Homo sapiens: one gene and its partner. The protein of the gene in region 2 interacts with the protein of the main gene of each other region in a pairwise test. Each region holds a gene or a part of one and is shown on either strand. Other genes may lie near its edges. The genes, in order: CHRM3 and POM121C.

Region 1 (3,825 bases), on a different chromosome or scaffold from region 2:
CCCAGGCTGGAGTGCAGTGGCACCATCACAGCTCACTGCAGCTTTGAACTAATGGGCTCAAGGGATCCTCCTTGCCTCAGCCTCCCATATAGCTGAGACTACAGGCAGGTGCACAATCAAATCCAGCTGATTTTTAATAATTTTTGTAGAGATTTTTTTTGCTAAGTTGCCCAGGTTGGTCTTCAACTTCTGGCCTCAAACCATCCTCCCACCTCAGCCTTCCAAAGTGAGCCACTGTGCCTGTTTACATATTTTATATGCGAATGTGCACACTGAGCATTTATGAAGAAGACTCTGCACTAGATACTTGAAAGCAGTCAAAGACCAACAAAACACAGCATCTTTCAAGGAGTTCACAGTCTGATATTTCAAACAATTTGTGGCACACACACACTAAAACCAAGAGTGAATGTAATCAGGGATAAAAGTGAGATTCTGATAGAGTAACAGAAGATGAATTCGTTTCAAGTGGTCCTTGACAAATTGCTAAAATTTGGATCCCTGATGATGTGGCACAAAGGGCATCCTATGCAGCAAGAGAACGTGGCAGAGGATGAGGATACCTGCAACAGCAAGTACCAGGGTAAAGTGAAGGGTGACCTTGAGACTTGAGACTGAACTCAACATGCAAACCCAAGCCATGAAATAGGGTGAAGCTGATGCGAGACATTTAGTCTTTATTCAACAGGCAATGGAAGGTGATGTCAAAGAAGGTGTTCAAGGGTAGGAGAAAGATGATCACATTTGGTCCTCAATAACAGTAATCTGTGTAAAATGGATCAAAGGCAATAATATGATCAATGAGATCATCTGGGAAGCTCAGAGACTAAGAAAAGATACAAAGCTAAAACATAAAGCCTTTCTTCTCAGTGTGGTCTGAGCACAGAGGAGCAGTATCTGCATCACCTGAAGGCTGGTTAGAAATGCAGATTCTCAGGCCCCAACCCAGCCCTCATGGATCAGAGTCTGCATTTTATCAAGATCCCTATGTGATCTGAATGCACATTTAAGTTGCAGAAATGATGAATTAAGATATTGGTAGCAGGAGGGGAAAGTAGCCAAGAAGGTTGAGATCTTACTTGGTTGAATCATTAGAATTCGGTACCTGGCTAAATGTAGGAGGTGAGGGAAGAGAATAAATCAAGATCACTTGATTTATTCATAACATTTGAGCTGTAGGATGGTCATGCTATTCATAGAAATAGGAACCCCAGGAGGGGAACAGGATGAGGAAGAAGGAGGGGAAGGCTGTGCTATCCAGCAAGCACATGGAAATGCTCCTTACTGAAGCCAAGTGACCCACATGGAAAGGGTATTTGAAATCGTGAAGACAGAGGCAGGTACAAAAGGAGAGGCAACGGAAGAGTATGGGAGTCAACCAGGGAGAAATTGCTGGAAAGCCCTACACTCTGCAGAAAATAGGGGTGGGGAACAGGAAGAAGAGAAAAGAACCAGAGGAGAGAAGAGAGCTAGGTAGGTATAATTCTCTGAAAATTAAGGGAGTTTAAAGGGATTGCTAAGAGATTAACCAGGACAGACAAGGAAGGGCTACCCGTTTTATGACTAAGAGGTTACAGGTGACTTTTGGAGAAGTCATTGCTATAAACCTCATGAAGGTGGATGAGAGGAGTCAAAAGATTTAAAGTCAGAGGGTAATGAGATTAGGGGAGTGTGATTGCTGTTCGGTGAGTGTAATTGAAAAGGTTAAGAAAAATCATGAAAATTTAGAAGTGGCACATAGGACCAGGTTGAAATAACTTTAAACTTCTCAACTTTAAAGATTTTCTTGTGGAAGAAAGATCAGAAGTGTTCTCATCATAATTCTCAGAATTATTAAGAAGGCAAATAAGTACAATGAGAATTAGATTTTTGGCTCAATATAAAGGGGATCTGCATCTCACTGCTCTGTGAAAATGGAATGACCCCCCTGGTGAGTGTTAATTTCTCAAACATACAGACTGCACAGTTTAACACAAGAGAGAGGTCCAAAGCCAAAAGTTGTTCATTAATGACATCTGCAGTGGTCTGAATGGCGGTCCCTCCAAAAGATGTGCCCACCTCCTAATCCCCAGGTTCTGTGATTACCTTATATGACAAAAGATGTGATGTGATGAAGTTAAAGCTCTTGAAAGGAGGAGCTTATCCTAGATTTTCTGGCTGGGACTTCACTGCAATCACACATATCCTTATAAGACAGGCATATACAGGAGGAGACAGTGAAAGAGGTGGAGGAGGCAACGTGACCACAGAAGCAGAGATTGGAATGATATGCTCACAAGTCAAGGAATGCAGATAGCTACCAGGAGCTGAAGGAAGAAAGGAAGGATTCTCCCCTAGGGTCTTTAGAGGAAGTGCAGTCTTGCCAACACCTTGATTTCAGACTTCTGGCTTCCAGAATTGTGAAAGAATAAACTTCTGTTTTAAAACCTAAGAAATTCACGCAACATCTAACATCCCCTTCCAACCCAGATTTGTTTAGTTACACTCACATTGATCATATGCTCTGAAAAGCAGAGCCCTTGACTTACTGTGTATCCAAAACAGAATGTCCATGGTACTTTGCACATTAGATGATACTGATATGAAAGATGTGATAATGGATGTATATACAACACCTATGTAAATGAACATAGGTGGATTAGATATAAAGAGATAGATAATTGATAGGTAGATAGATGGAATGATTGAGTCATTTACTCATTCTACTCAAACATGTATTTATTATATATTTACTTATATACTCTCATGAAGGTAACTTCTTTGGAGAGAATCAAAATAAATACTACCTGGGTTATCCTTGAGCATCAAATTTTATATTAAAAATGGTGAGTGCCACTAGTATTCAGAGTAGAGGGAAGTGATTTGTAGTTGTTTAGTCAGACCGATTTTCAGTTTCTAACATTCAAATGAATCAAGGGATTTAAAATAATTAGTCACAGGGAAAAACAGAATGATAGCTGCGCTCAAGGAAAGCTGGAAGAGTTTGGCTGGTCCTTGCATGATGGAAAGGATCTGGGGTGAGGAGAGAAGAAAGGAGGACTCCATATAAAGAAACATCATGGCCATTCCAGATTCCCATCACCTCTCCCTTCACACAAGCTACTGCATGTGGCATGTGTTATCGGGCATGTGAGAAAGCACAGGAAACACGGCAGGAGGATCATCACGTCTATTTCAAGTATGAGAACTTCTTTTCAATGTAAATCGTTTGAGAGACCTCCCACAACAGAAGTTGTGCTTTTAGACTATTTTGCACTAAGAAAATTGAAAAATCACAAAAAAGACTGTGTTCAATAACATTTTTAAATGACTATGGATATACATTTAAATATAGTCATCAACATATTGTCAATTTGAAGCCAAAAACCCAACAATATTTAATATTTATATGGGATCTTCTTTCTTTCTTTCTTTATTGAAGAGATGGGGGTCTTGCTATGTTGTCTAGGCTGGAGTACAGTGGCTATTCACAGGTGCAATCATAGTACATTATAACCTTGAACTCCTGGCCTCAAGTGATCTTCCTGCCTTAGCCTCCCGAGTACCTGGGACTACAGGTGTATGCCACTATGCTCAGCCAAAATTTATATGGATTGTGAGTCTACAAAATACCACTGGATTAGGTTTCAATGGAAGTGAGAGCTAGCTCGATGGAATGTCAAATGGCTGTGGGCAAGAATTGGCCTGTATGTATTAATAGTTAGCAGTAACCAGGTTTCCCTCCAGTCTGGATCCCATGGGCAATTCTAGTGGGAGAAAATGTACTCCAAAGTGACAAGTCTTAAAAAATGTAGACAAAGGCTGTTAGCAGCTCCTTTTTCCTAC
Region 2 (3,825 bases):
CTTCAGAAAAATGGGTAAAGGATATGAACTAAGACTCACGGAAACAGAACTGAAAATAATCATTCAACATGTGAACAGATGATCAAACTACTCATAAGAGACAAAAATTAAATACTATTTTTTTTTTTTTTAAGATGGAGTCTCACTCTGTTGTCCAGGCTGGAGGGCAGTGGCATGAGGTCGGCTCACTTGACCTCCGCCTTCCAGGGTCGAGCAGTTCTCCTGCCTCAGCCTCCTAAGTAGCTGGGATTATAGGCACACGCCACCACACCTGGTTAAATTTTTTGTATTTTTAGTAGAGATGGGGTTTTGCCATGTTGGTCAGGCTGGTCTCAAACTCCTGATCGCAGGTGATCCACCTGCCTTGGCTTCCCAAAGTGCTGGGATTACAAGAGTGAGCCACGGTGGCGCTCAGCTAGCTTTTTTTTTTTTTTTTTTGAGACAGAGTCTCACTATGTTGCCCAGGCTGGAGTGCAGTGGCGCTATCTCTGCTCACTGCAGCCTGTGCCTCCTGGGTTCCTGAGATTCTCCTGCCTCAGCGTCCCGAGTAGCTGGGATTACAGGCGTGCACCACCATGCCCAGCTAATTTTTATATTTTTAGTAGAGACAGGATTTCACCATGTTGGCCAGGATGGTCTCGAACTCAGGTGATCTGCCTGCCTCGGACTCTCAAAGTGCTGGGATTACAGGCGTGAGCCTCCATGCCCATCCTAGATACTATTTTTTACCTGTCAAATTGGTAAAAGCCCAGAGCTACAATAACCAAATCTGCTGGTGAGGCCAGGGAGAAATGGTCCCTTTCATTCAATACTGAGGGGAATGCTGAGTGGTACATGCCCTGTAGGGGGATTTAACAATACCCAGCAAAATCACATGCGCATTTAACCCTTGACCGGAATCTGACTTCTAGAAATTTTTCCAGAGGCAAAACTGCCAAGGGTGAAAGGACATATGAACAAATGTATTCTTTGCAGCATTATTTGTGATAGCAGAAGACTGAAACAACCCAACGTTTGTCAATAGAGGACTAGAGTACCTATGCAGTTGTAAGACCAAAGATGAGTTTCTGTGTACTGCTATGGAATGACGTCAACTGTCTATTATGTGAAAAAGCAAGGTTCAAATCTATATATACTGTCTACTACCTTAAATGTTAGAAGGTGGCAGTTTTCAGATACACTGATACGCATACCGTTTAAAAAAGAACAACAAAGGATAATCAAAAAATAATAAAAATGGAGAGGAAGGAAAAATGTAGAGTGGAAAGGGATGGAAATTGAATTTTTGAGTGTATCTTGTTTTAGCGTATTTTTTTCAAACAACAAGTATTTTATGTAATTTAAAATAGAACTATTTCAAAAAGGAAAACATAGAAATCCCTGTAACTTTCAAACATACTGAACAAACGAACCTCACTGTATATAAAGTTGGTGTACCCAAAGGACAATTAACATTACTTTAAAACATGATATATTGATTACATGTCCCTAGGATTCACAGAGGGATATAAAGACCAAATGAATCACAATTCTTAAACTGACTTCAGCAGTCTTAATAATGACAGTGTTAATAATGACACTGATATTGCTATTTTGAAATTGCATGGCCAGGCATGGTGGCTCACACCTGTAATCCCAGCACTTTGGGAGGCCAAGGTGGGTGGATCACCTGAGGTCATGAGTTCCAGGCCAGCCTGGCCAACATGTTGAAACCTTGTGTCAAACTAAAAATACAAAAATTAGCTGGGCGTGGTGGCCAGAGCCTGTAATCCCAGCTACTTGGGAGGCTGAGGCAGGAGAATCGCTTGAATTCAGGAAGCAGAGATTGCAGTGAGCCAAGGTCGCACCACTGCGCTCCAGCGTGGGGAACAGAGTAAGACTCCGTCTCAAAAAAAAAAAAAGAAATTGCATGTACTAGGATCAAAGTAATTATAAACCAACATTTTTGGTGTAATACATAAAAATATAAAATCAAATAGATTACATAAAAAATCCTGCCACCATAAATTTGAATTTGGAATATTATGAATTAATTCTTTACATTCCTCTTTCTAGAGGATCTGTCTATCTTATCTCTCCTAAAACTTAGACTGTAGTCTCTACAGTTCTAACTGGAAGAAACCAAAGCTTTTTGAAGAAACAACCAACTTCAGTATAGGCTAAAAATGGACTTTGGGAAGGTGGGCAAAAAGCAATGAAGCTATCTGTCGAAGACTGCTGGGATCAAAATAAAGGATACAGGAGCCAGTTTGGCTCCCATAGTCCAAAGCTGGAAAAGTTTGCTTATCAAAAATAATAACTAGATATTAAATAATATTAAGGTTAATAATTTAAGAGGGGTAATGGTATTATGGTTATTAATGTTCATTTATATGACTCAGAGCCTTCTGGGCTGATGAACTCATCTCAAAATTTTCCTTGTCTCAAAAACGTTTCTCCTTACATGCTTTACATCTTTTTGTCTGGCTGCTGTATACTGGATACCCACTTACTGACAGCCACTGTAATAGGTGCTTTTTAAATATTACCCTCAATCATTGCAACAGCACTTCAGAGATAAGAAAAAGAGATGTTATGTGATTGTCTGCCCAAGACCTTATAGCTACTAGATGTCAGAGCCAAGCATTTTTTTCCTTTTCTTTGAGACACAGTCTCGCTCTGTTGCACAGGCTAGTCTTGAACTCCTGGGCTCAAGAGGTTCTCCCACCTTGATCTCCCAAAGTGATGGGATTACAGGCATGAGCCATCCCGCCCAGCCTCAGAGCCAAGATTTGAATCTAAGTCTGTCCAGCAGCAAAGCCTGCTCTGTTCCTTATACTATGCAATAATCCCCTTTCCAAAAAATCATGACCACTTGTTTAAAAACCCTGCGCTCAATTCTAAATGCCTATAAATCTCTTTTATGACCCAATACAAGCTGGACTCAGTCTACCTTTCGAATCACCCTCTGTCCGTTTATCTACATCACAGCTCTGTCTCGAATCAGCTCGCACACATGCACTGCTTTACATTCCGGGCTTTCTACTCCGTTCTGCTGGCCTATATTGATCACTCAATGATCTGTATTTTCTATTAGTTAGAGACAATCCTAATGTCCAACAGATAGAAGGTGATTAGTAAACTTTTGCTAACCAATTACTTTATTTAAAAAAATTTCTTTAAAGATTCTTTTGTACAGACAAGGTCTCACTATATTGCCCAGGCTGGTTTTGAACTCCTGGGCTCAAGCAATCCTCCCGCTTTGGCCTTCCAAAGTGCTGGGATTACATGGCTAAGCTACCATGTCTGGCCCTAATCAATGAATGAACGCTGGGAATTCATGCCCCCCACATTACAAGAGCTGTACTTGTACCTGTGAGATGCCTCGAGTGGAGCTGTAGGAACTGGTAATGGCATTGCGGCTGGAGCTAGGGATGCCACTTGTGTAAGCGCCTGTCAAGGAGCTCATGGAAGAGCTTCGGGATCTCTTATTCAAGTGGTCATCTGAGCTCTGAGAATTGAGGCCTCTCTTCAGAGACCCAGGCCTAATAAAAGAGAAGACAGTTAGATGCTTTATTGAAGGCAACATTCTTTTACGATTTCATCCACGGTCATGACATCTTTCTTAATAACATGAAGGGAAGAGAATAATGCTTTTAATTTTTACTGCTAACAATCTGGCCAAATCTATCTGACAAAGTCAGTAAGAAAAGCCAAATATTTAAAACTTAAATGTATGATTTATAGAATATTCTGGAAAATGCATACCTATCTACAGTGACAGAAGACAGATCAGTGGATGCCTGGGGACACGGGTGGAACTAAAGAGAGGGATTACAGGCATGT

What was found.
Region 1: the proteins of POM121C (region 2) and CHRM3 interact in a two-hybrid assay, tested with the Homo sapiens proteins (one large-scale study listed by BioGRID and IntAct).

What each region holds. Positions count from the first base shown.
Region 1 is NC_000001.11:239,392,767-239,396,591, reverse strand, and holds part of CHRM3 (muscarinic acetylcholine receptor M3), read right to left. Parts: intron 1-3,825.
Region 2 is NC_000007.14:75,434,163-75,437,987, forward strand, and holds part of POM121C (nuclear envelope pore membrane protein POM 121C), read right to left. Parts: intron 3,525-3,825; coding exon 3,353-3,524; intron 1-3,352. UniProt on the Homo sapiens protein: Essential component of the nuclear pore complex (NPC). The repeat-containing domain may be involved in anchoring components of the pore complex to the pore membrane. When overexpressed in cells induces the formation of cytoplasmic annulate lamellae (AL).